2 linked regions of the Homo sapiens genome follow. The protein of the gene in region 2 purifies or fractionates together with the protein of the main gene of each other region. This does not show direct contact. Each region holds a gene or a part of one and is shown on either strand. Other genes may lie near its edges.

The links.
Region 1: the proteins of JARID2 (region 2) and MTF2 purify together in Homo sapiens (affinity purification with mass spectrometry; 3 studies listed by BioGRID and IntAct, with this or other methods). This does not show direct contact.

The regions. Positions count from the first base shown.
Region 1 is NC_000001.11:93,106,742-93,123,242, reverse strand, and holds part of MTF2 (metal-response element-binding transcription factor 2), read right to left. Parts: intron 13,014-16,501; coding exon 12,815-13,013; intron 12,699-12,814; coding exon 12,617-12,698; intron 8,556-12,616; coding exon 8,460-8,555; intron 8,256-8,459; coding exon 8,155-8,255; intron 7,774-8,154; coding exon 7,625-7,773; intron 4,899-7,624; coding exon 4,803-4,898; intron 3,911-4,802; coding exon 3,842-3,910; intron 2,695-3,841; coding exon 2,571-2,694; intron 1-2,570. UniProt on the Homo sapiens protein: Polycomb group (PcG) protein that specifically binds histone H3 trimethylated at 'Lys-36' (H3K36me3) and recruits the PRC2 complex, thus enhancing PRC2 H3K27me3 methylation activity.
Region 2 is NC_000006.12:15,490,694-15,507,194, forward strand, and holds part of JARID2 (protein Jumonji), read left to right. Parts: exon of another isoform or gene 1-5,219; intron 5,220-5,438; coding exon 5,439-6,477; intron 6,478-10,213; coding exon 10,214-10,716; intron 10,717-13,806; coding exon 13,807-13,899; intron 13,900-16,442; coding exon 16,443-16,501.

The sequences.
Region 1 (16,501 bases), on a different chromosome or scaffold from region 2:
TCCTGTCTCTTAAAAAAAAAAAAAAAAAAAAAGAAAGAGCTGATGTTCAAAATGACTAAAGTACTCCAAGGTACTCAATTATAAAATATAAACATTATATTTAGCATACACTACTTCCCATGTTTTGAAAATAATTAATGGCATTTTATAAGATTTGGAACAAGAATATAAACAAAAGTAAATTTTTGTTAACCTAAATTTGGATTAGTGACAAAATTCAATTTGTAATTCATTTTTAGTTTATCAAAAATTTTCTATTCAAATAATTTGGAATGACCCATTATTTATGTTACCTTTTTATTGATCACTACAAACATTTGAAAGTAATCTAAATGAAAAACACTGAATAAACATGATAAACTAGCATAAATTTTATCATCTCTTTATTATTAAAAACTCACCCTAAAATCCAATTATAATTACAGTACAAAAATATAAAATACAGAAAATTAGAAACCTTAACTTCAATCTGTCAGTTACCAAAGTCTGTGAATGAGATGTCTCATCTAAGAAGTCTGAATATTTTCTTATTTTAATCCACAGAAAGAACAGTAAGAAATTATTAGTCTCTTGTTTTAGTAATAAATTTGATGGTCAAAAAGTGGAAATAATTTGCAAAACTTTTTCTTTTTTTCTAAGACATTACCTCATAGGCTACAGAAATAAAAACATGTATTATTACTGAAGCAAATTTTTTCTAGTATGTTTCAGAAGTTCAGTTGGAGCTGGGACACCCAAAATTCATAAACTGAACTCTTTTCTTGAAAAATATACTAAATGTGATTTTCATTTTCTTATATTTCCAGCCTCTCAAATAAAATCTAAACACTAAAATTTAAATTTTAATTAAAAAGGACAGCATTTGAAATAAACACAACTTGAGTTTTTATATTATATATACCCAATGTCTACATCAAGTTACTACTGCAGAATTTCATCATGTAATGCAGACAATGTACTAACAGGTATACATATGTATCTGCATATGAAGTGCTAAAAGAATAATGGCTAGAAAGAATTTTTAAACAAATGTATTATAGTATTAAATATTAAGATAATTATAAAAACCACTATAGCCACTTCTAATGCCTTACCCCTTACTTTCTGATTACTAATCAGTTTATTAAAATTTATCAAATGTGGCCATGCCCAGTGGCTCATGCCTGTAATCTCAGCACTTTGGGAGGCCAAGGTGGGCGGATCACTTAAGGTCAGGAGTTCAAGACCAGCCTGGCCAACATGGCAAAACTCCATCTCTACTAAAAATACAAAAATTAGCTGGGTATGGTGGCAGGTGCCTGTAATCCCAGCTACTTAGGAGGCTAAGGCAGGAGAATGGCTTGAGCCTGGGAGGCGGAGGTTGCGGTGAGCTGAGATCACGCCATTGCACTCCAGCCTGGGTGACAGAGCAAGACTCCGTCTCCAAAAAAAAAAAAAAAAAAAAAAAAAATCAAATGTACACATCACTCACTTTCTCTCAGACTTCATCTAAAAAAAAAGTATTTAACAGAAAACTTAACAAAAATTTGTATGATAATCCAATATCTAACATTCAAAACTCAAATGATGAATTCAAAAATTCATCAATTGAATTTCAATAATATCCTAGATTTTAAAACTACAAACTAAATCATGCATTATGTTCTCCCTGATATCCCATAAACCCCCAAAAAGCCCTTTGATATCCTATTTGATATGAAATAGGATGTCCTTCGTGTCTCAAAGCTACAAATCAAGAAATTCTTCCTAAACTTCAAATCAGTGTGCAAAATTTTTACCTAAAAAAAAGCATGACTAAGATATACATATCAAATTCCATATTATAAAACAAATTTTTTAGTTTTAACTAAAAGTAGTTAATATATGTACTTTAGTAATTCTAAATAAAAGCTAAAAATAAGGTCCCTAACTATTAAACTTATTCTAGTTACTTTTCTCTTTCTGCTATTCATTAGTTTCAAAATTTTCTTTAATGAACACACATTACTTTTAAATTCATTTAAAAAAAGACTGTAAACCAGCATAGGTAGTTACACTTCAAAAATGAGAAGCAAAATGAGATGTCAGAATGAGAGGGGATAATTTTCTATTCAGGCAGCTTCACTCTACAACTCATTTTTCTAACAATATTATTAGATCCCACCATTCCTACAAGTCAGAAATATATAAAGGAGTACCAACAAGAGAGGAAGGAAGAATGTTGGTTATATCTCTAAGTTTATAGAAAACTTAGAAGAAAAGGAGGTTGAACTACAAGTAAGATACCCAATACTAAAGATTTCTCCCTCCCTTCTATCTTTAACTACAATGACTTTCACTTCAGAAAATGAAAGAATCAAATAATATACCTCCTCCTTCTACAAATTTCCAGAGTCAACAGGCAACAAACACACAGGAGGATGAGAAGGCTGGTCCTGATATCCATACCAAACTTATTTGTCCCCAGAACTAAAAATAAAATTCTATTTTAGTTGTCTGACTTATACATGTGTCTCAGTTGTTTTTTGAAAAACAAAACAAAACAAAAAAGACATCAAGTAGCTACTGAAGTTAGTTCTCAGACCACCTACCTCTCCAGGGTGCAATCTATCCCAGTTTTCATTAATGTATGTCATAAGCTCAAGTTCAGAATCAAAGTATTTCTTCTTATGAATAACACTTAGGTTGTAAAGGCATAGGTGTGCTATATCTACCCTGGAATCCGAAAATAATCAAATACACAAAACAATGTTTTTGGTTACTGTTAAAAAATCACGGTTTCCTTATAAAACAGTAATTAAAATGCAAAGAGAAATATTTAGGTGGATAGTCATATTCACAATACAATAAATCACTACACATAAAAATAACTAGAAAATAGTGACTAAACATTCACTTATTCTGAATAGCAACTATAAACTAGAAGATATATGAATTACTTCTTTTTTTTTTTTTTTTTTTTCTTGGAGACAGAGTTTCGCTGATTGCCCAGGCTGGAGTAGTACAATGGCACAACGTCAGCTCACTGCAACTTCCGCCCCGTGGGTTCAAGCGATTCTCCTGCCTCAGCCTCCCTCAGCCTCCCGAGTAGCTGGGATTACAGGCGCCCACCACCACGCTAGGCTAAATTTTTTTGTATTTTTAGTAGAAACGTGGTTTCACCGTGTTGGCCAGGCTGGTCTTAAACTCCAGACCTCAGGAGATCCACCCACCTCGGCCTCCCAAAGTGCTGGGATTACAGGCGAAAGCCACCGCACCTGGCCACAAATTACTTCTTCAAGTGCATTCAAAGAGGGTCTGGCTTTAAAAAAATATAACTTAAAATCAAGATTTTTGTGTTTTCACTTCCGGATATAAGCTACAGAATATACCATACTTAACCAAACTATTTGATTCATGGGTTAAATCCTATCTGTTGATAAAATATGTAAAATACAACAAAGATTTGTAAGTACTTACTGTAAGCATTTTATTAGTAAACCTCTAAAATTCATCACACTTCCAACACACAAGAATTACTACATTGAAGCAGAAATTAGCATATTTGTTATACCTATCTCTCTTCTACTGTATGGTATTCTGAATGTTCAAAAGAACTAGAAATATGAGTAAGAATTTAGGTCTAAAGGATATCTGAAAGTTTCATTTATAACATTCAACACTGAACAGCCTTATTAATTTAGCAATACAAGTGGATGTTACTTAGTGAAGATGACATCAGGCATGAGGATAAATAAAAGAAATAAAGCCAAGCATAAATAACCTATTTTTACTTAAGCCAAGTAAATGTATATAGAAAGTTTCAACTTGTAGGTTTAAGAAAATGGCTTTTCTTTCTTTTAACAGAAAGGTCCACACTTACCACTGTAATGGTAGACGTTTGAGGTATTCTGGTCCAGAACTGCAGACAGAGCATATAAACGTATAAAATCTAAGAAAAAAAAAAAAAAGAAAAAGTTTTATACTGAGTCATCAGAGATAAACTAACAATTATAGCTAATATTCACCAAGTGAATAACCTACAGCTGATATAAAGACTGATACTCAAAACAAAATATAATTTAAATTATAATGCTTTCTGTGATTGAAGGAAGTTCTTTTCCAATAACAAATAATGAAACAGTTCATATGTGAAGAGAAAGGATCTTTGTTTTTAACCATTGGAGACCTTCAAAGTTCACACACAGACTCACACGTACTTATAGTTTACTAATCGCTTGTGTGTGCCAGGAATTGTGATGGCTGCCCCCACATACATAGTTTAATTCAACGCTCAAAATAACATAATAAGCCCGAAAGAGACAAGTGAACTTCCCTAAGGTCAGAAAGAAAATTAAGTGGCATAAGCCAAGATTTTTAAAACCAGGTTTTCAGATGTCAAACTTAGTGGTCTAGCTTTTTGTTCCTGGAGCTCACTGTGCTACCCTGCATTCTTCTAATATAGAAAGTACATTAAGTCTGCTTTTACAAATTTTTCATATCTAAAGTATAGTTGTGTCTTTAACAAGGCCCTGTGGTCTTTTCCAATTCTAATACTATCCCTTTGAGGTTCTTTAAAGGAAGGTACCAATGAGAATACTTTAGAGTACTATGGGTCAATAGGAGCAAATGTAATCACTGACAATACTTAAAAGCATTCTGGAATAAAATCCAAAAGCACAAAAATTACGTATATTTTAAGTATATTATTTAATATTTTCCCTCTGAGACAACCCCTTTCCAAATCACTGTTGAAACTATCTTTAGGAAATCTGAAATCACAAATATAACCACAATTAAAAAGTGACAAAAATCAGCCAGTAAAGTTCAAATGCCCTTCTCACCTGTCTCCAAATAGCATTGGCTTTTGAAGGCATTGCACACAAGCCTCATGAAACCACTGCTTACATTTGCAGCACTGTAGCATCTTCAAATACCAGCTATTAAAAAAAACAAAAAAGTTAACACTAAAATTCCTGTCTTAAGGGAAAGGTTCATTTCTTTAAAAAAAAAAAAAAAAAAAGTGGCCTAATCCACAATACTGTTCTAATTAAAGCATCACATTTCTACTATACTTACTGTAAATATTTCCTTTCCCAAAAAGGCTTATAGTATCAGCTATTTCATCCCTCTTCTCTCTTTTATTCATGAAATTTTATAAGCTCTTGAAAGATACACTACTACTTCTAGTCAAAAATGCCTGGCTCCTACACTAGTCAAATGAGCTCTGTTAAAACACAAGCCTAGGCTATTTTTTTTTAAAGAGGCAAGTATTGCTATGTTGTCCAGGCTGGAGTGCAGCAGCATGACCATGGCTCATGCAGCCTCAACCTCCCAGTTCAAGTGACCCTCCCACCTCAGCCTCCCAAGTAGCTAGGACCACAGGCATGCACCACCAAGCTAGGCAAATTTTTTTTTTAAGTAAAACTGAGGTCTCCCTGTGTTGCCAGAGCTGGTCTCCAATTCCTGGGCCCAGGTGATCCTCTGTCCTCGGCCTCCCAAAATGCTGGGATCACATGCGAGAGCCACCATGCCAGGCCTCTGGGCTTTTTTTCACATCAACTCTCTAAACCCCAGGAGAGGTCAGATTCAGAGGTACTGTTGTTTGCCCCAAATATCAAATGGCCTTAGGCAGCTTTCAGATTATAAACATTCCACTTCATATCTTTACTGTGTTTCTATTATTCTTGTCAGCTATAATAAAAAGAATATAACGATTTAATAAACCTGCTTAACATTATCATAAATCTAATCTAAGACTCTACCAGGTATAAAGGCTTTTTGACAGGTTTAGCTATATTTCAATGTATGGTCTATAGATCTGTTTGAGAAAGCTAAAGATGCTAAAATTGAATCTTCATCTAAGAAATATATCTTCTCTTTTCAGTTAGCACATGGATTTTGGGTTTGTTTTAAGAGACAGGGCTACATTGCTACATTGACCAAGCTGGACTTCAGGGTTCAAAGGATCCTCCCACCTCAGCCTCCCAAGTATCTGGCAGTACAGGTACACACCACCACACCCAGCTAGTATGTGGTTTTGATATGGTTATCTTTATTTGAAAATAATAAAAGGCACCATTTCCAAACTTTGATACGGTTATCTTTATCGGAAAATAATAAAAGGCACCATTTCCAAACAGAGCTATACCTTGATTCAGTCTATTAGCACTATTTTTCTAGGTTCATGTGCTCACCTTATGTCTCTGTGTCACATTTTGGAAATTCCCATAATATTTCAAACTTTTTCATTATTATTAATATTGTATCTTTCATGGTGATCAGTGATCTTTGATGTTACTACTATAACTATTTTGGGCCACCAAAAACCGTGCCCACCTAAGATGGCAAACTTAATCACTAAATGTTGCATGTGTTCTGACTACTATCAACCAGCCAGTCCCCATCCCTCTCCCTCTCCTCAAGCTTCCTATTCCCTGAGACACAATATTGAAATTAGGCTAATTAATAATCTTACAGTGGGGGCCAGGCGTGGTGATCATGCTTGTATTTCCAGCACTTTGGGAGGCCAAAGCAGGAGAATCACTTGAGGCCAAGAGTTGGAGACCAACGTGGACAAATAGCAAGACTCCATTTCCACAAAAAAACTTAAAAAACTAGCAGGGTGTGGTGGCGCATGCCTGTGGTCCTACCTACTCAGGAGGCTGAGATGGGAGGATTGCTTGAGCCCAGTTCAATGCTGGAGTGAGCTATAACCATGCCACTGCACTCCAGCCGAGGCAACAGAGCAAGAACCTGTCTCAAAAAAAAAAAAAAAAAAAATCTTACAATGGCCTCTAAGTGTTCAAATGAAAGGAAGAGTCACAAGTCTCTAAATTTAAATCAAACGTTAGGAAGGTATGTCAAAAGCCAAGATAGGCCAAAAGCTAGGCCTCTTGCACCAAACAGCTGGCCAAACTGTATATGCAAAGAAAAAGTTCTGGAAGAAAATAAAAATGCTACTCCAGGCCAGCATGGCTCAGGCCTGTAAACCCAGCCAGCTTTGGGAGGCCAAGGTAGCAAGAACCTGTCTTTACAAAAAAAAAAATACTTTTTAAAATTAGCCAGGTGTAGTGGCACGTGTCTGTGGTCCTAGCTACTTCGGAGGCTGAGACAGGAGGATAACTTGAGCCCAGAAGTTCAGTGCTGCAGTGAGCTATGATCATGTCACTGCACTACAATCTGTGCCCTATCACTTTAAGAAAGAAATGAAAATACGTAGAAGAAAGCAGTAATCTATCTGTGAAAAAGTTCCATGTTGATTTTATGTCTTAAAAAACTTGTCTTTTACTCTCCCATTTAAATTATAATATTAAATATACCAGTTTCTAAATGGTCAATCACATTAAATATGACATCCAATGAAACTACTGATACTGGGCCCCTGCAGTAAATGTTTTCCCTCAATAGTTAATTTTATGACAATATTTATAATTCACTTTAAATTTCCAGAATATAAGACTTATACAAATATTTTAATGTGTGGATATGATCAAAAACTAGATGAAAATTATTTTTTTATGAAAATAATAGATTTTCCCCCTGGTTTTCTTCACTGATGTGTTCATGCAGTTGCAATTCACCATCACTCACACACCATAATCAAGAAAAATAGATAAGTAAATAAAAATTACTTAAAGGGAATTACATAACTGTATTTACTTACTCTCCAGGGCCTCCACAATAGCAGTAACACTGCTGGACATTGGTTTTATGACCTGCATCCCATTCAAGGTCTGCCACACTATAGGGTAATGTCTGCTTCATGACTTGCAATGCTTTGGCATTTGGTCCTTTCTTAAGTGCACCACCCCTCTACATTAGAGGGAAAAAAATGTGAAAGAGTGAAGGCTAAAATTTTAAACACAATTCTATACTTTAAAAACGACTCTGACACTTCTGGAGAAATTTCCTTTCCAAACTTTTACCATATCACAAACTGTCTGATTAATAATAATCTCTATTTTTCTTTTCTTCTTTCAAATTACTGCACCAATTCCCGTATTACTATCATCAAATAAGTGAAAGCATCATTAAAAAGTCACTTAAGCATCATTAGTCAAATAAATAGCACCTCTTTCTACCCAGCATTCATTGCTCATTTCATTCCAACAAACTTTCAGTGTACACAATCATTATGTTGATAATGTCTTACAAATTCCATCAGAGCTTTAGCCCAAAACACTTAAAATATACCTTTGTTGTTGTTGCAAAAACACACTGCCGACAGAGCCATTTTTCATCTGAATCAATCACACTGGAATCAATATGAGGTGTGTGACACAACTGATGATATCCTTAATATCAAAAAAAGCATAAAGCAAATTCGGTTTCATTAATACTTTCAACACAATTTCAAGAATGCATTTTAGCATTATTTCCTACATTAATATAATTAATAAAAAGGATAATTTCAAATTATCAATGTAAAGTATTTTTAGTCATTAATCTTCAACATAGTCATTCAGTATGTAACAAGATTAAAAGAAATCAATGGTTACCTTGGCCACACTTGTCACATATAACCATTTCATTGGGAGCTTCTGAATACTCTTCTTGACATATTGTACAGACCATTTCCCCACTTCCAGTGGCTCCTAAAATATTTAAAACACATTAAAAAAGAGAGTCATAAAAAATTCCATAAAACAAAACCACTTTTATGACTCAGTGAGCAGCACATATGCGCAATGTTTGCTAAGTACATCATAATGCTTCACAAGACAAAGTACACGAATGGTATCTCTCTGCTCTCTGTGTTCTTTCTACCTTTAACTTAACATGCCTACTTTCATAATTTAATCTGCTTTTTGGCAGAAGGCATAATTTAAATTGCTCTTGAGCATCTTCCCTTATTACTCATTTCTCATATTCCCACTCTTAAAGGTGAAGGTGGAGATGAGGGATGGGCGACAGCAGATAGAGAAGGTTTGTGAACACTAGAGCTACTTTATAGAATACTTATCTATTCATGTACATACATTCACTTATCCTACACCACTAATACCATGAAATTAAAGAAAAAAAGTAAGGAAGATAAGTAAACTACCTCTTTCTCGCTCAATTCAGAGCATTTCCTTTTACTTACTAATTTATTAAACAGGTTGAACACCAATTATTTAATCTCTAGCTTCTGAAATCTGAAAATATGGTATCCAATAATGTACCCTAACAAAATATCATTTCAACAAAATTTGGGGGTCCCAAAATTATTAATTTTTTTTAGCAGAACAAGTGAAGCATTTCTTCCTGAGACATTTTTATTCTCAAAAAAAAAAAATCACACAAAATTTCTAATACAATTTACCACCCTAACACATTATCATTTCCAGTATTCTCATCTTGTCTGTTTCAGCAGAGTCAAATTCACAATACACAGCCTTTATATACATAACAACAATAAAAACTTATAATTTTGTGCTATGGGCCAAGCACTGTGTAGGATCTTGATATATTTTGTTTAATTCTACAACTAACTTATAAATATACTATTTATAGAGAAGAACTGAGGCTCAGACAAAGTAACTAACCCAAAGACCCTGAGAAAACATCAAGACTAGGATTCAAATCCAGATGTGCCAAAATCCATGTTCTCTCCACTACGAGATGCTTCATCAATACTATGTAATATTTCTTCTATCAAAAGCATTTTTCACTCAAAATTGAAAATGAAAATCATTTTTCATTTCAAAATTGTAACTTCTAATAGCTGCATAGTATTACATCTAGTGGAAATAACCCAATTTACTTCATTATTACTCTACTCTCGGACATACAGGTTACCAACTGTTTTTCTTTTTTTGGAGGGGGAGAAATCTGTCTTTTGTATTTCTGCTATTTATTTGTTTGTTCTGGTCTCTCATCCTCTCTCTTCTGCTTTGTTTGCTTCCTTTTATTTTTCCCCTCAGATAGGGTCTTGCTGTGTCATCCAGGCTGGAGTGCAGTGGCACAGCCACAGCTCACTGCAGCCTTGACTTCCCAAGCCCAAGCAATGCTCCCACCTCAGCCTCCCAAGTAACTGGAACCACAGGCGTGTGTGTCACCATGCCTATTTTTTTTTTTTTTTTTGTAGCGACAGGATCTCCCTGTGTTGCCCAAGCTGGTCTCAAATTCCTGGGCTCAAGCAATCCTCCTGCCTGGGCCTCCCAAAGCACTGGGATTGCAGACATAAGGCACTGCGCCCAGCTGTTTGCTTCTTGGTACACTTCGTTGAAGGTGGTCTCCCATAGCTTCTGGGTTTATGGTTCCGATCATGAGAGCAACCAGATTAAGCCTGGGAACTCTCTGTGAAAATTTACAATTCCCTGGAAATGGAACAACAGCCCCGCGAGGGGAGGTGCCTGACCTGACTCTCACTGTAACTACCTGGACTAATGATGGGGAAGGCAATTCCTCAGAAAAGGGGGTAGTGACCCAAGAAACAATCCTGAGAAAGCTGGGAATTAACTTTTACTTGTGAAATCAAACATATATGTATATATTTTTTACCATCAAGTTTACAAGAACCTTCCTATATAGCTTAGTAATCTTCTATAGTCTCCTTTACTCTAAATCCAATTGACTAGAAAGCCTTGGCCATTTCATCTTAGAAATACCAAATTTTTTGTTGTTGTTAAAATAAACTTCAGGAAACATTTTTCACCTAGTATTTTTTGAATTACTTCTTATGAATAAACTGCTAGAAAGGAGTCTATTAGATAATTATAAACTTCTGCATTTAATGCAAATGCTAAACCACCAAAATAGAAATTTACACTGCCACCAGCAATGCAAGAGTATATCATTTCACAGAAACCAAAACAGCATTAGATGCTAAGATTCAAAACCCTCTTACATTTATGTAATAGTTGTAACATGATATATTTCACCCTGTTGACTACTAATATTTTTCTTTATGTAAAATTTTTAAAAGAAACTCATTAGACAAATATAATTTATTAAGTTTTGATATACATTATTGGCAGATTTCTTACAGGGAAGAAAACTACTAAACCCACTCCTCACTGAAATATGCCATAACGCAGGTTTCAGATTCATTTATTCATTTTTATAGCAACTATAAGTTTCATATGTGCTAATATCAGGGTGCTAAGAAGAGTTAAATGACCAGGAGCAATCCTTTGTAATTCCAAGAACAGCAAAAGGAACCAGTGAAGAAAGAACAACCACAGAACATTAAACTGACATACTGAGTGCAGGACTTATAGAACCCCTCACACAACAACTTTCTATCTCTATGTAACATTGGTTTTCTTCTTTTCTACCACTTTTAAAAGCAGAGGAGAAGTAGAAAGGAGGAAGTAGACAAAAGGACAGACAGACCTATTACATTAAATCCACAGGAAACTCCAAAAGATCTTCAAAAGCTGAAAGAAACACATAGCTAATGGAAGGGGAGTAAAAAGCAGCATAACATGTTTCACTGCTATTACAGAGAGACCTATGTTTACAAAATAAGGAAAAAAGAATAATTTTGTGTGCAGGGTAGTAAGATCTGCTCAATATTAGTAGTGTTGGAGATCTCCTATCCCTTTAAATCTTATGAGTCACACTTTTCTCTGGCTCCTCAATTTCAGATTCAAAATGTAATTTTAGTCCTTTAAACTTATCAGTCCAGGAACCATAAAAAGTTTCTCCAGAAAAACATTTTACCAGAGTAAAAGCTACTTAGTTCCCCACCTAAGCCCTGAGTACCAACTATACAGATGGTAATTAGAACATTCCAATTCCTTTACCAAAACTTTTTTTATTCTTTAAGAAACATTAAGAGTAAAGTCAAGAACTAAAACATGGCAGAAACCTACCATAAAATTGAACTTGGTATTCAAATATAAAACCCAATTGTTAAATACTTTGGCAAGGTGTCTACCCTTTAGGGAGAAAATTTATCTCTTTTCTATGAGAATACACAAAACACGGGTCTTAGTGTAGGCCTATTAACCCAGCAAAAGGAAAACCAAAAGTAGGGCTTTAATGAACAGCTAAAATACTCAGGCTTTTAGTAGAGATTGTAATTTTTAAAAGTACTTTGCATGAAAGAGGTACCTGGTAAAACATCTATATTTAGCAGATGCTAAAAGCATGAAACAATCATGGTTTCTAATAATAGAAATCATCACAAGAAGCATACCTATAACCAAACCAAGGCATACTTTCATTCATTTTTATTGGCACACAAATATAGCCTCATTTTCCCATTTAAACATAAAAAACCCATAACTAAATGGTAATTTTAAACCATTCTTATTAACGAATATTTCTATTATTCTAAATCAGTTTTATATGTCCTAATTTCCCAAATCATCTGACAAACAGTATGCTCCCAATAAACACTTGCTTTCTACAAATATAAGCAAGCAACAGTTGAATTGAATCCCAAACCGTTACTGAGATTAGTTACTAAAGATTTTTCTTCAAAGTTCTTAGAAGGGTCTTAACATAGCTTACAGGTATAAATTAGTGATGCATCTGTCCTCTAGAGTATTCTTGTTCTTCTTATGGTCTATAATAACGACTATGCTGATTTTTTAACCTCTCCTAGGAAGTAATACTGAGTTATCTAAATACACTGTATTCAACAGACAACATCATAATATGACAAGTTGAAGAAAATCAAATTTTAATTTAAATCATGTTCAAGAGAAATAGTAGCACCTGCCTGTTTGAATGTCCTTCCAGAGAACCCAGGATTTAGAACTGTCTTCAAATATGATGAAGCAGCTCTGTTTCAATATGTTTATCTGCAATACAGAGAAATACTTAACGGTGATCTCTTAAAATTAAAAACATGAAGTTAAATTTAAGATTATTAAATGCTTACTGCAAAAACAGCAAAAGATACATTAAAGTAACTTGCCTTTTTGATAGTGCCAAGATAAAACAAGCCATCTGACCATCTAGCTAGGACATCCTGACCCTCTTCAAATTTACATGCTGGCTTTTTGGCTTTATGTCCATCCTGTAAAGACAGCTTGGTCAAGGATGTTGGGGTCTTTTGGTTTCGACGTAAAGGAGACCGCTTGTGGACCAGTGAATTACCTGCCCCTGTAGAGTCTCTGTTTAGAGAATAAAAGACCATACATAAGACTTACTTGTAGAGCTTATTTTATACCAGTGGGATATTTTATATGTTAATCAAAGTTTTAAATTTGTTAAAAACCTTAAGACAAAAATATAAAAAGTACCTCAAATCATAAATACTCTCCAAACAAAGCAGTTTAAAACAAAATGATAACAATTCTCAATATCCATTCATTGCCTACTCTAAGTGAGGCCAAGACTCAGCAAACACTCCAAGATAACACATTCAAGGCAGCTGCCATCAAAATAACAGCTTTATGTTGAGGTATGCAGGCCATGATCATGAGCAAATAATGTCTTGAATCTCATGACTGGGTTTAGGTAAAGAATAAAAGTGAATTACATTTTAATCTCTTGATTATGCCACATGCAGTTAAGACACATTAACCAGTGACTTCAAGGGACAGCTGGTGTTATTCACACTCTTCACACTCAAAGGAAGGGCAGTCATGACCTTCTCCTTACAGGGAATCACCACTGAATTGAGCAAATATGCAGACTGAGAGTTTAAAAAAAAAAACATTGAGAACCAGCAATTTCATTACATTATAGACAAATAGTACACTATAAGGCCAGGTGCGGTGGCTCATGCCTGTAATCCCAGCTCTTTGGGAGGCTGAGGCGGGTGGATCACCTGAGGCCAGGAGTTCAAGACCAGCCTGGCCAACATGGTGAAACCCTGTGTCTACTAAAAAATACAAAGATTAGCCGGGCGTGGTGGTACACACCTGTGATGCCAGCTACTGGGGAGGCTGAGGCAGGAGAATCATTTGAACCCAGGAGGCGGAGGTTGCAGTGAGCTGAGATCATGCCACTGCACTCCAGCCTGGGCAACAGAGCAAGACTCTGTCTCAAAAAACAAAAAAACAAAAAAAAAGGAAAGTACACTATAAGAGTACTTAAAGGAAAAAAATATATATTAAATACTGTGAAATTACATTATAACTTATGTATCAGACATTCCATAAACAGCAAAGCATACCACCATCAGCTTTCTTAAAGGTAACAAAGCAGTGTTTGGTTTCACTTTTCCAAATTAGATTTTTCACTAATTAAACATACAGTGACATGTAAAACTAGATAATAATTCTAAAAACAGCATAAAAGTTTAGTAAAAATAAAATGAGCAGGGAAATTAAAGAAAAAAGTTTCAAAAAGTTCCTAAGTATTAGGAATATCTAACTTCAATATCTAAAAATACAGAAATTCTGGGAAACCCTGTCACATGCTCAAACACGGATGAACCTTGAAGACATTATGCTAAGTGAAATAAGCCAGACAAAATGGACAACTATTCCACTTATATGAGGTGCCTAGACACTCAAAGTCATAGAGATGGAAAACAGAATGGCGGCCAACGGCTAGGAAGAATGGGGAATAGGGAGTTAGTGTTTAATGGGTACGGAGTGTTTCAGTTTGAAAGAAATACATTTTAGAGATATCCAAAGAAATAACTGGTACCTTCCCAAATTTGCTGAAAAACATTATCTACACATCCAAGCAGCTCAACAAATTCCAAGTAGGATAAATGCAAAGAGATCTACACCCAGCCACATCATAGTAAAAATGCTGAAAGGCAAAAAAAAAAAAAAAAAAAATCTTGAAAGCAACAAGAGAAACACAATATATCACGTACAGGGAAACCCCAATAAGATTAACAGTTGACTTCTCATCAGAAACAATAAAGGCCAGAAGGCAGTGAGATGACATATTCAAAGTAAGCAGGCTGCAGGGAGTGGGTGCTGTCACCAGAGAATCTTATATCCAGCAAAACTGTCTTTCAAAAATGAAGGTGAAATACAAACTCCCAGATAAACAAAAACTGAATTTGTTATTAGCAGAGACATCTTACAATGAATACTACTACGATTGAAAGTAAGTAAACCCAGAAGGAAATTCAAATACATGTACATACACATACACACACACACACACAAAGAATACCAACAAAAGTAATTATAAAAGACAGCATAAATGCATATTCCCTCCAAAGCAAGTATATAAAACAATATGTACATAATTGTATTGTTAGACCCATAATATATAGAAATGTAATATATTTGGCAATAATAGCATAAAGGAAGTATGTAGGAGCAAAACTGTTTCAACTGTTTCAAAGAAATGACACAGGCCAGGTGCAGCATGGCTGACGCCTGTAATCCCAGCACTTTGGGAGGCTGAGGCAGGAGGACCCCGAATTCAAGAGTAGCCTGGGCAACAAAGGGAGAATGTCTCTAAAAAAATTAAAAAATAAAAATTAGCCGGGCATTGTGGCACGTGCCTGTGGTCCCAGCTACTCAGGAGTCTGGGGTGGGAGGACTATATGAGGCCAGGAGGTCGAGACTGCAGTGAGCTGTGATTGTGCCACTGCACTCCAGCCTGAGCAACAGAGAGAGAACCTGTCAAAAGAAAAGAAGAAAAGAAAAGAGAAAAATGGAAGGAAGGACAGACACAAGATGCTAACTTGAATTCACAAGAACAAACGAAAAAAAAAATGGTAATTAAGGTCAATATAAAACGTAGATTGTCACTTCAAGAAAATACCTGCCTTATACAGAACTAAGTGGCTGTTTCAAGTAAAAATGGTGTTCCATGAAAAAGCTGCTAGTTCAGCTGGCAACTCAAACAATGGCACAAGTGCCTTATGCCATTTCTATTTTATCACACATATTAAAAACCTGGCCAGCACGGTGGCTCATGCCTGTAATTCCAGCATTTTGGAAGGCCGAGGCAGGTGGATCATTTGAGGCCAGGAGTTCAAGACAAGCCTGGCCAACATAGCAAAACCCCCCATCTCTACTAAAAATACAAAATTAGCCAGGCATGGTGGCGCGTGCCTGTAATCCCAGCTACTCGGGAGGCTGAGGCAGGAGAACCGCTTGAACCTGGGAGGCGGACGTTGCAATGAGCCAAGATTACACCACTGCACTCCAGCCTAGGCAACAGAGCAAAACTACATCTCAAAAACAAACAAACAAACAAAAAACATTCTTAAGTGAAATAAGGTTTGGGGGTACGTGTGTGTGTTTATATTTTTTACCGTTAGTACACAATGAAGAATACAAGTACAGTTTGATGCCGCTGCCTTGATTCATGCTAAGGCACAAAGCAATTTTATCTAACATTGTTTTTTCTGTGCCATAGTCAGCTGTGAGGAGAAGGCACTTTTGGTAGTATAATTAGAGGGGTTAAAAAGTTTAAATGTTTGACAAGATCAGTGCAAGAGAACAGAAGTAAAAATGCAGGAAGAATCACAATGAATTATCATCAGGGATGCTCAAGGAGAGGGTAAGAATCCTCTTTCTCCAGATTTTGAAACAATTTAACGGCTTCACAGTATGGGAATAACTCTATTAGCAATCAACTTTGAAAAAAGCTTTAAGGGGCAGGATGCGGTGGCTCACGCCTGTAATCCCAACACTTTGGGAGGCCGAGGTGGGCAGATCACCTGAGGCTGGGAGTT
Region 2 (16,501 bases):
GTGTTTTTCTGTTGCTTTCCTGCAGTAGTACTTCTGCTTACATGCAGTGACAGAAAGTAACAAGTTTAGGATAGTCCAACAGACGAGCTTTATTTCTAGCAAGGGTTTTGAAGTATTAGTTTTCCAAGAGAGTCATGAGCAGGTTTTGTACTTGTGTAGAAATTTGTGTGGTTTGTAAGCCAGGATATTGAACCAGATGTGGCCACATGTGATTCTCATTTCTTACGCTGAGGCTGAGTGTGAGAAGAAAATGATCAACTGGCTAATCCCACTGGTTTTGCAGGACCTTCCATTGAGCTATAGGCTACTGTCACTGAAGAGGTTTTCATATGAAAATGTACAAGCCTTGCAGAAAAATCCTGCCCTAGTAAGATTCAGAGAGGGCCAAGGAATTGAGAATATTCTTTTAAAGTTCTGGAAAATACGGCTATTGAGAAGGAAACATAGAAAATCATATTAGTTTTTAAAAAAGTTAAAGGTTTTCTTCTCATGACATTATTTTGTCATTTGAATTGCACTTGCTGGTGGTGGGGTATTTGTGACTCAGTTACATTGCCTTCAGTGGGAGGAGAGGTTATAGGTACATCTAGATTGCCCAGTGGAACCCAGGCATCTCTTTTAGAGCACATTTGCCTTGGCCTTGGCCTTGGCTAGGAGGCTCCTGCCCATCTGCTGCTGCGGTCAGTGTTTGAGCAGGCTGCTCCTCCCCTTCCATAACTCACTGTCTGTCCAGTGCATTTCGCTTCTGTTTAGGCTCTTTGTTTTTGATTCAAGTTTTAAAGTGCAAATGGACTACCCCCAGCCACCAACTGTTTCTCTCTCTGGGCCTCTGGTTCTGTTTTGAAAGGCTGGCAGAGGCCTCGGCTCAACGGCTCCCTCTCGTGGAGAAGAAGAACTTGCCAGTGAATCTGAGGTTGAACTGAGGACAGCGTCATAATCTTGAACGACTAAAACATTTTTGCTTAGTTAACCAAAAACATCAGAGTCATTTCTCATCTTCTGCTCTGCCTTGGAAGTGCATGTTTCTCCTTTTCATCTGTCATCATACTGAGTTGATTTAAATATTGTGTGTGTCGGTGGTGGGGTGGAGAAAAACCCATAAGGATGGAGGGGAGAGATTTTATATTCTTAAAGCAAGCACACAGAGTGTGGATTGGGTACAGTTTTTAAGATGGAATTTCTGTTATTAAGAACAAAGTCAGGTAGGAACGTTTGATGTCCTGGACTTTCATATCTCTCACCTTATATCCCTTCTGCAAGAAGAATGAGGTATTGTTGCCAGTACTCATCTGGCCGAACGTAACTTGAAAATGCTCTCAACCTTGCCTGTTAAATTGAAACCATTCTCTTATGACTAGGAGGGATTGCTTTAATATCTCATGGCCGTGTGCCTGGGATCACCTGAGATACAGGTGACGGATGGCTGTGGGCCAAGGAGCACACGCTGCAGACACCTCACTTTCTGCAGAGCTGGGTTGGGGGCTGGGGGCAATGGGCTGAGAAGCCAGAAATCCACAACAGAGCTGAGAGAAGGAGTAACTTCAAGCACTTATGTATAAAGCTGCTCAGCTGAAATGTATTGTCATTCAATGGAGGGTCCTGCTGTAGCCCACGTCGGCGCTAATTCTTCAGTGAGTTCAGATGACTTCCTGTGTGTGCTCTTCTGTGGAATCCCTCAGGACGTGCAGCGGTGGCCTTCCTTGTAGTGCACTGGCTGCATAACTGGGGCTGTGTGGTTTTAATTGATACAGAGGTGGGTTGAGGGAGACCTTCGGTAACAAGGTAAGACAATGCCTTCCTCCATTCTTCTGTTTCCTTTTGTACTGATTAAGTGTTGGCTCCTTATAGACAAGTCCAGGCCAGGAAAAGGGGTGTCCTTTTGTTAGATTGGTGGGTCCCAGGTTTCCCCACAATGGTGGTGCTGGCTGGGTTGTTGGTTCTGTTTTATTTCTCCCTTTTAGGACACATGGAGCAGCTTAAGGGGCTTCCTATGTTAGCTTTTCAGCTCCCCTGTGGCCTCTCGTGGTGGGCATAGAACACGGACCCTCTGGGTTTCGAGGAGGAAGATGGCCAGTGACACTTGCCTTTTTCAGTCTTCGTAATTGTTTGAACTTCGCTGGTCTGTGTTGTGGGTGAGATCCATCTAGTCTTTGAGCTTGTTATATGGGCATGCGTGTGTGATATCTGGGTGGATACTGTTGAAGATAACTCCTATAATAAGAAGGAAAATATTGCAACTCATTTCTCTCATAAAGCAAGTTATTTGAATGTATACCTTGCCAATAATTCAGTATTTAGGTTTTCAGAAAGATGTAAACAAGGTGTTCCTTTTGCCATTGAAGATAGTGATATATAGAATTCAGCTGTGTTGAAAATTTACTTCCCTGTAGCATTGCTAGCCATGAACTCAGGTGCCCCCGAGAAGCCAGAATGGATGGAACCAAAGGCCTTACACTCTTATTTGAGATAGAATATGAGAGACATAGCACTCTGGTATTTGGACAGCGGTGTTAGGGAAGGGTAGGGTCCACGGATTTGTGGGAACACTGAGACATCTGAGGCTTTTAAACACTGATTCCCTTTCTTGATCCTCACCAATTAGCACAGAATCTAGAGGGAAGGGATTTACATTATTTTGAAGCTCCCCTAAGGGTTTTAGGGGTGCCAGGTTTGGAAAACACTGAACTAAACCTCAGCAAGTAGTGGTGGCTGATGCCTGAACCTCACAGGAGTTGGGTTATGTCCGGCACCATCTGGAGTTTGCCATTTTGATTAGCGATATACGAAGCCGCACTGTGTCCGTCTCCTTAAGGAGACTCTTGTGCTGGGAGTAGGGCTGAAACAGATTGCACCCCTACAGGTTAAAAGGAGATTGAGCCAACTGTAGAGGTGTTGTCTTTTGCTGTCTGAACCTGAGATAGAGCCCTTCCCCAAGGTCCTGGATTCCCTGAGGCCCATTCCCCCACCCCCACCCAGCCCCACCAGCCTTTGTTGCTGGAAATAAAGATCAGCCCCAGCTGGAGTTTACTGTTTGCTTTTGTTTTTCTAAATGTTTTGTCTTGTTTTGGTTTTAGTGGAAGCATTTGAAAGAACAATTAAAACTAAGAGATTTGCATTCCTCACTATACCTCCTCTTGCAGATTAACAGTACTTACCACGGAATATTTCTGTTTGTCCTTACCCCTGGTTTTATAAATCTGTTTTAAATTTATCATTGCCAGGTGCTTTTTTTCCTCTCCAAAAGGGTTTCGCATTATTTATTCCAGACCGTCTGTCAGTCCCACTTTTTTTATGGGTGACTCATGGTTTAAGAGCCAGAGTGTGATTCCTGGGTCTTCGCTTCTGCCTCTTCATGGGGCCTGAGATCTGGCTCTAGGAATGAGGCCTCCATGGGCCTGGCTCCTAAGAGATGATGTCCTACCAAGAATTTGTGGCTTTGATTGGACTGCACTTAATTGGTGGCATATAGAGAAATACAGGTCTCAGTGGCTTCTTTCCTTTTTGATTTTTATAAACTTCACTGATACTTCATTCAGTGGTTCCAAGCGCGGTCCCCAGGTCAGCACACAGCATCACCTGGGACTTGGTTAGAAATGCACATTCTCAGTCCCATCCCAGACCCTCTGACTTGGACACTCTGCCGGTAGGGCCCAGTGATGTGTTTACATCAGCCCTCTAGGGGATGCTGAGAGCCACTGGTTTGGATGTTTTTGGCAAGTCTTTTTTTTTTTTTTTTTTTTGAGACAAGAGTCTCGCCCAGGCTGGAGTGCAGTGGCATGATCTCGGTTCACTGCAAACTCCACCTCCTGGGTTCACGCCGTTCTTCTGCCTCAGCCTCCCAAGTAGCTGGGACTACAGGCGCACACCGCCACACCCAGCTAATTTTTTGTATTTTTAGTAGAGACGGGGTTTCACCGTGTTAGCCAGTATGGTGTCAATCTCCTGACCTTGTGATCCACCCGCCTCGGCCTCCCAAAGTGCTGGGATTACAGGCGCCTTTGGGAAGTTTCATTCCATGCCCCACCCCCACTTAAGGGGGGTCCTGGGCCAGGCCTAGGTTTAGTACAAAGGTCACTAAGACTCATTACCCGCCATCTGGGGACCTTCGTCCCCATGTGACAGCAGCCTGCACAGCCTTGTGGTGGCACTGGTGTTTCAGTACCCTCTGGGCCATCACTGCATGTGGCCAGCTCTCCTGACCAGGAAGTGCAGGCTCCCCCGACCCTGGCACCTTCCTCTCGGGCTGTTGGGGAGAAGAGGGGGCTAGTATTCTGTGTTTCTCAGTAATTTTGTGATTTTTAGGCTTCTTCCTTTGGAGATGGTGGTGGTTATAAAACCCTGAAGTCCCTGACTTTAACCTCATATCATAGACGAAAAGTAATGCCCAAGGTGTTAAGTGATGGGGCAGTGGCCACATTGTGACGCAGAGAAGACATCTTCTCGAAACCAGCATGTCTGGCAGCAGCCCATTGGGGTCCCTTCATTATTCTTGTTTGAAGCTTGTGCATTTCTAGTGTCTGCCATTGTCGCTCCCCATTTTCGCTGACGTTTGTGTGTCCCAAGATTACCACGGCGTCCAAGCTGTAAGACTGTCTCTGTTTGCCCAGGTCCCATAGAACCTGATGGGAAAGTTTGTCCAGGGTGGAAGATACATGGGACAGTTTGTAAACGGTGGGAAAATATAGGAAGCGCGTGTGCAGACGAGGGTTGGCATGTGTTGCTTCAACAGTGAGGTCGGGGCATCCCTCTTCCATCCAGCCTGGCCCTGTCCAGGGCTCGTCTCCACAAGGAAAGCAGACAGCAGCTGCTGACAGTTTGCAGCCACACCTCTGGGCCTGGCCTGCCACCCGGAGCCAAACCACATGAGCACTGCTGTTCTTTTGCTTCCATAGTATTTTTGTTTTCCTTCTTTTTTTAGCCATAGATTTCTAAATCCTGTGGGCAGGTCATGCTGCTATGTGGAGCACAGAAATAGCAGACATGACTTTTCTTGGAACAGGGATATGTGTGTGTGTCTGTCTCCACTTCCCCCAAGGAAGCAGGATCTTGCTGTCATCAACTCTGAGAAGCTCAGGACAGGTGATTGCATGGCACGTGGGGAGGTCTTCATTGTGAAACACCAAATTTCCTGGAAGAGCAATGGGAACGTGAAAATGCACCCAGGAAACCCCGCTAGGAAGCGCCTGGGGCAGTTTGCATACTTCTGTGACGAAGGATAGGTATATAGTGGATTCTGAAAGTGGACATCGCTGCTTAATTCTTGGATGTGTATTTTGCTTCTCTTTGCTGGTATTTCCACATCTCTTCTTATCACACTACAGGCTGCTGGCTCTGTTCATCCCCAGCATCCAGGGTCCTTTCTCACGGGTGGGCCGGTCATTTTAGTGGCAGGTACTAATTCTGCGTTTTTTTCCACCTCTGCTTCTGCTGCTCCACAGGTTTCTAAGGTAAACGGAGTCACTCGAATGTCATCTCTGGGTGCAGGTGTAACCAGTGCCAAAAAGATGCGCGAGGTCAGACCTTCACCATCCAAAACTGTGAAGTACACTGCCACGGTGACGAAGGGGGCTGTCACATACACCAAAGCCAAGAGAGAACTGGTCAAGGACACCAAACCCAATCACCACAAGCCCAGTTCCGCTGTCAACCACACAATCTCAGGGAAAACTGAAAGTAGCAATGCAAAAACCCGCAAACAGGTGCTATCCCTCGGGGGGGCGTCCAAGTCCACTGGGCCCGCCGTCAATGGCCTCAAGGTCAGTGGCAGGTTGAACCCAAAGTCATGCACTAAGGAGGTGGGGGGGCGGCAGCTGCGGGAGGGCCTGCAGCTGCGGGAGGGGCTGCGGAACTCCAAGAGGAGACTGGAAGAGGCACACCAGGCGGAGAAGCCGCAGTCGCCCCCCAAGAAGATGAAAGGGGCGGCTGGCCCCGCCGAAGGCCCTGGCAAGAAGGCCCCGGCCGAGAGAGGTCTGCTGAACGGACACGTGAAGAAGGAAGTGCCGGAGCGCAGTCTGGAGAGGAATCGGCCGAAGCGGGCCACGGCCGGGAAGAGCACGCCAGGCAGACAAGCACATGGCAAGGCGGACAGCGCCTCCTGTGAAAATCGTTCTACCTCGCAACCGGAGTCCGTGCACAAGCCGCAGGACTCGGGCAAGGCCGAGAAGGGCGGCGGCAAGGCCGGGTGGGCGGCCATGGACGAGATCCCCGTCCTCAGGCCCTCCGCCAAGGAGTTCCACGATCCGCTCATCTACATCGAGTCGGTCCGCGCTCAGGTGGAGAAGTTCGGGATGTGCAGGGTGATCCCCCCTCCGGACTGGCGGCCCGAGTGCAAGCTCAACGATGAGATGCGGTTTGTCACGCAGATTCAGCACATCCACAAGCTGGGCCGGCGCTGGGGCCCCAACGTGCAGCGGCTGGCCTGCATCAAGAAGCACCTCAAATCTCAGGGCATCACCATGGACGAGCTCCCGCTCATAGGTAGGTCTGGGCGGGGGGTCAGGGGGTGGTGCCTGCCCTCCTGCCCCCAGATCCCTGCAGTTCCCTCACAGTCTTCACGTTCTCTTCCCTTGCGAAAGCTCCAGTTCCGCTTCCCTGTCTCGGGAGTAGTGGGCTTCTCAGCTCATTCCCCCTGCAGCCCTTCTTCCCAGGTCCTGGGCGTTGGTGGCAGGATAAGAATGGTATTGAGCTGCCGGGCGCGGTGGCTCACGCTTGTAATCCCAGCACTTTGGGAGGCTGAGGCGGGCAGATCATGAGGTCAGGAGATCGAGATCACGGTGAAACCCCGTCTCTACTAAAAATACAAAAAAATTAGCCGGGCGTGGTGGCGGGGGCCTGTAGTCCCAGCTACTTGGAGAGGCTGAGGCAGGAGAATGGCGTGAACCCAGGAGGCGGAGCTTGCAGTGAGCCGAGATCACACCACTGCACTCCAGCCTGGGTGACAGAGTGAGATTCCGTCTCAAAAAAAAAAAAAAAGTATTGAGCTTGGATCTGGGGTGAGCCCCCACTCTGGGTCTGGGCCCCTTGCTTCCCCTGGGCTGTCACCTCCTACCCACAACTGCTGGAGTTAAAGCAGGGGCCGGGGGGCCAGTGGGGAGCGCTGCCCCTCTGGATTCCACACTGGATTATAGAGGCTGGAAGCCCAAGGTCTAGGGGCCAGCAGGGTTGGTTTCTCCCGAAACCAACAAGACCTCCCTCCTTGGCTTGTGCATGGCTGTTTTCTCCCTGTGTCCTCACAGGGTCCTACCTCTATGTGTGTCTGTGTCTTCATCTCCTCTCCTTAGAAGGACATTGGATTAGGGCCCATCCTACTGACCTCTTTCTAACATAATTACCCTTTTGAAGACCCTGTCTCCAAATTCATTCATGTCCTGAGGTACTGGAGGTCAGGGCTTCAACATATGAATTTGGAGGGATCACCATGCAGCCCATAGCCCTCTAGGGTCCTGTAGGCCATTTTTTATCCTGCTCAGCCTTGTCTCTTCTTCCTCTGAGCTTCAGTTTCTCTGGCGATTTTGTCAAGGCCACAGGTCAAGGGATCTGTTGACCTTTTTTCTGAGACCAGGTTTTTTCTGAGACCTTTTTTCTGAGCTCTGGCTGGGGCTGTTGGAAACTTGTCACAGTGGATCCTTAGTGAATGCATATCTGGGCTGTCATGCAGACCCTTGCTCCTCAGGGTGGGTTGCAGGCAGATCCTCCTCTTGGGTTCCCCTGTAGCCCTCCTTCCCTGTCATCCTCTCTTCAGTCCTGCCACTGGGGACACAGGGTGAGGATGAACTTGCCTTGTTAAGGCTAAGTGGATTCTGTGGAGTGAGGTGCATCCAGGTAAGGTTGCAACCCCATCAGTCTAGACCCATGGGAGGAAACAGGCCACACCTCCATTTTGGAGATCCTCAATTTTCAAAGGCATGGAGACGTGTAGCCATCATTTAAGTGTCAGGGATTTGGCAGCAAGATAGGCTTCCAGGCAGGATGGAGGTTTCGTGGTTCCCCTCAGCAGGTGCCTGCCAGGACTGATGCCTGAGTGACAGTCACCTTAACTTGCAAGAGTTCTTGGTTTGTGCTCTGCTGTTGGGAATAGCACGTGATAGGAAGCAGTGCAGGGAGCAGGCTCTGCACACGCGTGCACCCACGCCCGCTGACCACGCCCCATGACTACTTGGGACACAGGATGACTGAGTCAGTGATGGAACCGCACCAAGTCCTCCTGCCTTTGGAGACCTGCAGACAGGAGGGAAACATTCCAAGTTTCCCTCCTCTGCTAGGTGGATGATGGAGCCTCGAGAGCACACTTGACATCGTAGTGACAGCGCCTTTTGTTTAGAGTAGGTTTTTCTTTACCCTCGACTCCCTTACCCTGGGACAAAAGCCATACTGTGCCTCCCTGTGGTGTGCTTATGCTTGTTGCCGTCACCCAGAAGTCTAAGGCGTCTGACATTCTGTCCCAGGGGTACTGACCTGTCTGTGACCCAGCAAGGCCTCAGGGCTGGGGTCTGAGCTCAGCCATCTGACAGTGGTAGAAACTTAATAACTTTGAAGTAATAGCCTAAAATCCACCCCAGCAGATGTGCCTTCTGCCTCTGTGTAGGTTCACTTCCACCGCAGGTCCCAGGGAGCCGCCGTGCCGCTGGCGGGAGTTGGGTGGGGAAGGGGCTCGGCCACGTAGCAGCCTCAAGGCCCTGAGTGGGAGTGATCGCAGCGGATGAGGATTCCATGAAGAATTCTTGCAAGCGCTGTGTGATTTTCAGGTGCTCTTGCGTTATAATCTACTTAGAGTGAAATATGAAAGTGTGGATTTCCTCCCTTCTGTGACCTGTGTTCTGAGTCACTCGGACGGTGGAGGACTTGTTTTGGTTGGGGGACTCGTTTTGGTGCCTACCTCTGTAAGTTGAGACAGTACCCACCTGCCCTCGGAGGAAGAACTCCCGATTGTCAGCCAGAGCCACCGTGAGTCCCACCTGTGACTCTGGGAGTCTGTGAGACCTGGAGTTTGTTGTGGAGTCTCAGTTCTTAGGTCCCTCCTGTCGAGGCTGGGGACAGTTCCCTCATGGATGTTACCCCAACTCCCCTGTTCTCCACAACCACATCAGTCCACTGTCCTGCCATTTAGTGTGAGTGGAATTCAGGCTGCTGTGTCCCCATCCCTGGTCTTGCTGGTGTGCTGGGAACTCGCTCTCTGTGTGTGCTGTGTCTGCCGAGGTGGTTCAGACGCTTCACCTAGTGGGTCCTGTCATGCTTGGTATGTGCAGCGACCCTGCCTGGACTGGATCCGTGCACACTTTACCTTTTATTACTTAAAAACAATATATCCCCACACTCTAAAGATTTAAAACGTTGTTAATTTGTACTTTGTTTAGTATTTTGTTGATGGTTATTTTGGAAAATCTCCCCTACCCCCCTTCCTTTATTTGGCCCGAGGGAGGTTGCTTTCTCCATTCCCATCTAGAAAAGCCACTGGGCGCGCGTTAAAACCTGCCCAGGTTTGATGTGCATTTGCGCTGCTCTGTGGCCTGATCAGGAGGGGCACTGAGCACCAGCTTATGCACTGAGAAGCAGCCCGCTGTCTGGATGGGCGAGGGACGAGGCATAGATGTGCTGCCCTGTGTCCTCACGCAGGTGTTGCTCTTTGCTCTGGAAATCCAGCAGGATGGAAAATAGACTTCCTTTGTGTGAGTGAGTGGGTGGATGGGTGAAGTTGAGTGAGTGAGTGGGTGGGCATTGGGAATTATAGAAGGGGAATTGGGAGTTGGTAACAAGCATGTGTCAAAGCTATTCTAGGTGACGCTGGGCCGTGGGTGCAGCCAGGACCCCTACCCACTCCTCACCAGGGAGCTAGTCTTCTCATGACACCCGCCTCCATGTGACAACACATGTACCAGTACATGGTACACTGGGATGTTCCTCCCTGTATGTCTGTCTGGCCAGCTCGCATCCTTTTCCAGCCAAGCCCCAGCTTAAATGCTGCCTCCTCAGACGCTCCCCACCTAAAATGGTAGTCCCTCGTTCCACCTGCTCTTCGTAGCAAGTGGTCATGACCCATCATTTTGTAACGCCCTTCTCTCTGTGGACCGGGAGTCTGCTGTTCACCACTCTCACCCCAGAGCCTGTCAGAGTCCTGGCTCATAGTAGGAGTTCAAGAAGTACAGGTTGAATGAGGAACATCTTGTTCGTGTCTCTTTCACTAACTGTCCCGTTTTTTTCCCCTTCGCTGTCCCAGGGGGCTGTGAGCTCGACCTGGCCTGCTTTTTCCGGCTGATTAATGAGATGGGCGGCATGCAGCAAGTGACTGACCTCAAAAAATGGAACAAACTAGCAGACATGCTGCGCATCCCCAGAACTGCCCAGGACCGGCTGGCCAAGCTGCAGGAGGCCTACTGCCAGTACCTACTCTCCTACGACTCCCTGTCCCCAGAGGAGCACCGGCGGCTGGAGAAGGAGGTGCTGATGGAGAAGGAGATCCTGGAGAAGCGCAAGGGGCCGCTGGAAGGCCACACAGAGAACGACCACCACAAGTTCCACCCTCTGCCCCGCTTCGAGCCCAAGAATGGGCTCATCCACGGCGTGGCCCCCAGGAACGGCTTCCGCAGCAAGCTCAAGGAGGTGGGCCAGGCCCAGTTGAAGACTGGCCGGCGGCGACTCTTCGCTCAGGAAAAAGAAGTGGTCAAGGAAGAGGAGGAGGACAAAGGCGTCCTCAATGACTTCCACAAGTGCATCTATAAGGTAGGGGCCTCCGCAGAGCAGCCACTCCCAGCTGCAGGAGTGCGGGAGGAATGAGAGAGGAAGTGGAGCGTGCTATGCACTGGACGGTGTGTTCTCTGATTCCCTGGGGTGATGAGGGGGCGGGCCACTGTGCTGGGTGATAGCGCTGTATTAGTCCTCTCGTGTTGCTGAAATACTACAGACTGGGGAATTCATAATAAACAGAAATGTACTGGCTCCTGGTTGTGGAGCCTGGGAAGTCCAATATCGAGGAACCTAGTGAGGGCCTTGTGGGTGCGTTGATGGGGCAGCAGGAGACCCAGTGAGGGAGGGGAAGTCCACTCCACGAAGATACCACGAGTCCATTCCGCCTGCCTAGGGCCTCGGGTTTCCTTTTCATTAACTGGCTTGCGTGTGCGTGTTGCATGCACGTGCACACATCTCCATATGCCAGGGATAAGTAACTGGGCTGCATGCTTCGTTTCCCCTGCTTCTCCAGTTCCGTTTCATCCTGGTGCTCGACAGCTGCCCAGATCCAGCTGAACTTCTCACTGGCTGGACCGTCAGTGGACTCTGTGCGCTTGTTTTCTCTGTTTTCTATCCGCTCACCTCACTGCCAGCCCAGCGTTGCCAGGTCCTCTCTGTGGAGAGCTATCCCTGATAAAGCCATCAAAATGAATCTCACCATTCACACGCTGTGGAGGGAAGAGCTGGGGAGAAACCAGCAAACTGAAACATGCAGCGTTTCCCTGTCTCCGCCAGGTCTCCCGGCAGCACACTCATCCTGAGGAGACTCGCCCCTCCAAGAAGCAGGGGAGGCAGAGTCCGTGGCTCTCCTCTTGGCAGCTCTCCCAGCTGTCCTGGCTCTGAAGCAAGGCTTGGGGTTTCCTCCCTTCTCCAGCCTGCCAGTGGGTAGCGGGGCACCCGGGGCCCAGCTGGCCGAGCTCAGCTAAGTTGAAGTCTCTGCTGAGTTTCCCGGCACAGACTTGTCCTCTGTGGTCCCAGTTCTGGATTCACTGGAAGGGAAGCGTTCTCTGCTCCAGCCCTCGTGAGCCTGGTGGGAGTGTGTGGCTAGTGGGTTTCGGCAGCATTGGGAATTGGCTGTTGGTTATCACTAAACACCACCATACCCTCAGGTGCCCACGGCTGCCTGACTGCAGGCTCTGGCCTGGCCTTGTAGTTGAGGCAATGCGGGCTTCTGATACCATCACACATCTTAGAAATACGGAGGAAGGGTTGACTTGACTCCTGGCGTTGCTGCTTCACTTTAAGTCCAGGCCCTGCAGACCCGCCTCAGGCTGCATCTCATGTCCTTGCACACTTCTCTGGAAAGAGGTACCCAGTTTTTCTGGCCTGAGACCCTGAGAGGGTTTGGCTCCCTTTTATCTGAGTCTGCTCTCCCATTGCCCAAGGCTGCCTGGTGGGGATGCGGTGTGGGGGTTGCTGGATGCAGCCTGCCAAGTGTGACCCAGAGACTGTAAGCTCTGAGGAACTTTATTTGGTGTTTCCTGAATGTTTTACTGAGAAGCCTTTGTCAAGTAAAGCCACTCAGTGAATCCTGTGACTGAATAGCCAACTGGTGAAATGAGAAACTGTCAACGTTTTTACTTTTTACTGAAGGAGGCCAATTCTGTGAGCGTATGTTTGATTCAAATAAGAGGTTTGGATTTGTTTAAATCCACCCCGTCAAGGGTATTTCTAGATTTCATCACGGAAATATAGTGGAGCTCTGCGTGGTGGCCATGGCGAAGCCCCCAGCAGCCGTGTGCCCACGGGTAGGGACCGTGAGCACGCAACTCTCTGTGGCACCGGTGTCCTGGCTGCTGACTTTGGTCTGCTGGTGTCATCCTCACCTCCACTCATTGCACTCTGCCTTGGTGCAGAATTCAGTCCCTCCTTTTTTATATTTACAAGAAACAGACTATCAGGAGCGGCTTGGAATTTGCATGGAAGTACGTTCCTGTAGTTAGAACCCCATCTAGTTCCTTTGCTGCAGGAGAGAAAGGCACAAGCCAATGTCTCCATGCCGACTACGACTGTGGACCCAATGGCAGAAAGCATCTGCTGCTCCCTGTTGTGGCCCTATCACTTCTAGGGGGACGCTGCGGTGTCCAGTGCTCCGCAGGGAAGCCTTCCCTGACCACCCTCCCCCACTCTACATGACACCTGGCACCTCCTCCCATCCCATATTTGTGTGTTTGAGGCCTGTGTCTTCCCCAGACTGAATGGAAGCTCCTCGAGGTTTTGTGTGTTTCATGCACTGCTCTGTCTCCAGCCCCTAGGATTTGACCTAGTACACCATAGGTGCTCAGGAGATATTTCTGGACTCAAGCAACAAATGTGCCCGGTCAAGTAAGAAAGAAATAGCAAGGGTCTTAGATGGATTCCCTCTGAAAAACGCACCACATTTCGTGTGGTAGGTAAAAGAAGGTGCTGACTCCGGATTCCCAAACTGACTCAGCTGTTTTATCAAAGCAAGCAAATCATTCTGGAAGTTATTGGGAACAGGGCAACAGAGGGGCATCGAAGAAGAGGCGCAGAGGGGACAGCAGGTGGTTCTGTGGAGAGAAGGCGACCAGGTCGCAACCTCAGTGAAGGCTGCTGCCCTGGCAGGTGTTAATATGGCAAGGACTCTCAGGGTGTAGATGTCGCACCAGTTTCTGTCTCTCCAGCTTCTCTCCTGTGGGATCCCTGGTCACGAGTTCCATCAGGTCATAGCTGCTGATAGCTTCTCCGCTGGCCCGCAGCAGCCTTTGTCAGCTGAGGGATTCTGCCTCCAGCACAAGCTGCTTTTTCAGCAGAGCCTTGGAGGGGCCTTCCGCGCTTCTGCTGTGCGTCCGCTCAGGGCCTCTGGGCGGCAGCCTCTGTTCCTGGCAGAACAATTTGGCCCTCATGGGGTTGATCCTTGGTGGAGTCTTCCCACTCCTCTTGGCACTGCGGGTTCTTAGAGAATATATTTCTTCCTTCTCTGCCTGTCATTAACTCAGAATACAAGGTGGCCCACAGCCGCAGGGACGCCAAGGGGCAGCGGCCCATGACAGGTGTCTGGCCTCATTTGCAGTAGGGTTCAGCTTTGCTTCTGAAGCTTTACTGTTTTTTGTTTTGTTTCAGGGAAGGTCTGTTTCTCTAACAACTTTTTATCGAACAGCGAGGAATATCATGAGCATGTGTTTCAGCAAGGAGCCTGCCCCAGCCGAAATCGAGGTGAGAGAAGGGGCCCCTCACGCTGCCTCTCATGGTGTGGGAACCCCTCGGCGAGCTGGAGGACATCCTGTCCTGCCCTGACCCCTGCAGCTCGGTGAACGGAAAGGACTCAGATGGGGCTGAGTTCGTCCTCTGTGTTGAGCGTGCACCAGGGCAGCCAAATGTTTTAACTTAGGTTGATCTAAACTTGTTCACAAGCCAAAAACACTATAATGAAGGTGGGGAGCTGCCGAGTGCAGGGGACGGGTTCTGGGCACGTCCCCTGCTCCCCGTCACTGTCTCCTCCTGCTTGCTCACCCGGCTGTTTCTCACCCCATCCTCTGTGTGTCTGTTATGCAAGAGAATGTTTGGAATCCCTTGAAACCACAGTTGTGCTTTTTCTTCTCTTCTATTTTTTATTTAATGGGATTGGCAGATTGCCATTTTTGTGCTTCTGCCAACTCTCTTCTTTGAGTTAGTATGAGGTTGGAAAGACAGTGAGCACTTCTGTGCCCAGACCAATTAGGGGGAGTTTTTGTGTGCGGCGCTGCAGGACAGAGACCGGATCTGTTTATTTACCTCCCCTCGGCCAGTGCCCAGCTGAGTCCGTGTGAACTTCCAGCTGCTGACGTCGGTGGGCTCTCAGCAGCGCTTGGTCGTGGAAAGGGAAAGAAACCAAACCCGGACTGCTGGTTCAGGGCAGCTGCCGGCCGGGGAACAGGAGGTATTTGCTGACCACAGCCTCATCTTTTAGTGTGTGACAGGCTTTTGCTGTGTTTTTTTTTTTTTTTTTTCCCCTTAATGCCACCTGTTTCAAATAAAATCCAAGGTCGGTTTGCCCCGTGTATACATGCTGACCACTGGGGGTTCAGGTATCTTGTTTTGCCCAGGTTTTAGACCTGTGACCTTCAAACCTGCTCAAACCAGGACAGCTGGTCACCCTCCCTGGGTGGCGTTTGGTGCCCCACCTCCTGATAGCAATTGTCAGAGCTTAGGATGTCCAGCCCTGTGGCCCACCCCTCCCTTCCTAGTGTGGGGAATAGAGGTTTACCTTTCACGCCATTTTCATCGTCTTAGGACCTAGGTCTCTGCTTACGTGCAGGGGCTGCCTACACTGTGTACCCTGGGTGCGGCTGTTGAATGCCACGCAGTGGCCTGACACCCGGCCTGTGGTCATGATTACCGTGCTGCAGCCGCCACTGCCTCACCCACCACCAGCCACGATGTCAGCTGAACCGTGGTCTAGGACACGTGTGGCTTCCGCAGCTGCTTCCAGAGCACGCGTTGCGTTTGTGGTAGAGATGTCAGGCGGAGGACACTTGGCTTTCTGGGGCTGAGCGTTGGACCTGGGAAGAGGCCTTTATTGCCAAACAACACGTGTCCTGTGGGCATCTCCCCAGAGGTGCAGAAGTTTATTATCCATGATGCGCAAGAAAACTTAGCTCATTTTACAGCCTCTTATTCAGGAATTAATTCCCTCTGAAAGTCTGGATTTTGCTCTAGCAGTTGTGTAAATATTTAAACACAAAGGGGAGATTTGCTAGAATTTAAACTTCAGGCCTGGATTGCCTAGCTTCTTGTGCTCTGTATTCCAAAAAAGGCTGGTGGACAGCCCCTGGAGTTGGCCACCACCTGGGAGCAGTCCCTTGCTTCCCTTCCCATGTCTTTACAGGCGCACCAGACGCTGGTTGCCCTCAGTTTCAGCAAATACGCAGCAGGCTTGGGCACTCAGGGAGTCTGTTGAGGGAATCCAGTCATTTAATGTGGAATTCGTTCTTGATTTGTGGAGCTTGACTCCGCCAGGTCGGCCCCCTCTTTGTGGAAGTCACACAGCATTGAGGAAAGTGGTTTTGGTGTTGCTAGTAGCGCTTTGTGGAGCTTAACTGGACCCTATGATGCTGGGGGCTTATGAGTTAGGCTTCTTCCCTAAATGTGGTTCCAGCTTTACCAAGGCTTGTGAGACGAGGGAAGAGGACTTAGTGCTTCTGGAGTGATCACTGAGAACAAAGTGGAAGGTGACTGCGTGGGGAGGCTTGTCTCAAGGGAGCCTGGGCACCGCTGCTTGCCTGTAGTCAAAGCATGTTCTGACCCATTCTTTGCCCCCATATTTGTTTAGATGGGACATATTAAAAGTCACTTCGGAAGCTTTATATAATTGGCGGTTACCGTGCTTAGCATAATGTCCTCCAGGTTCATCTATGTTGTAGCATGTGTCAGAACTGACATCCTTTTACAAGTTGAGTAATAGGCCATGGTATGGACGGAGTAGATTTTGTTCATCCATCTGTGGATGGGATACTTTGGTGGCTTCACCTTTTGGCTGTTGGGAATAACACTGCATAACATGGGTGAGACCCTGCTTTCTGGCATTCTGAGGATATGCCTGGAGGTGACCTGTCATTGCTTTCTGCATTAGCGTCCTGCTGGAGACACTCTGCAAAGAGAGCGTCTGTTCTGAGGGGTGTGTGCACCAGGCATTCGTGTCCCAGTTTTGTTGGGTTGAACTGTGCTCTGTGGCTGCAGCACCTTAGGGGTGCTGACCAGCCCTTTCCTGTTCCCTGCAGCAAGAGTACTGGAGGCTAGTGGAAGAGAAGGACTGCCACGTGGCAGTGCACTGCGGCAA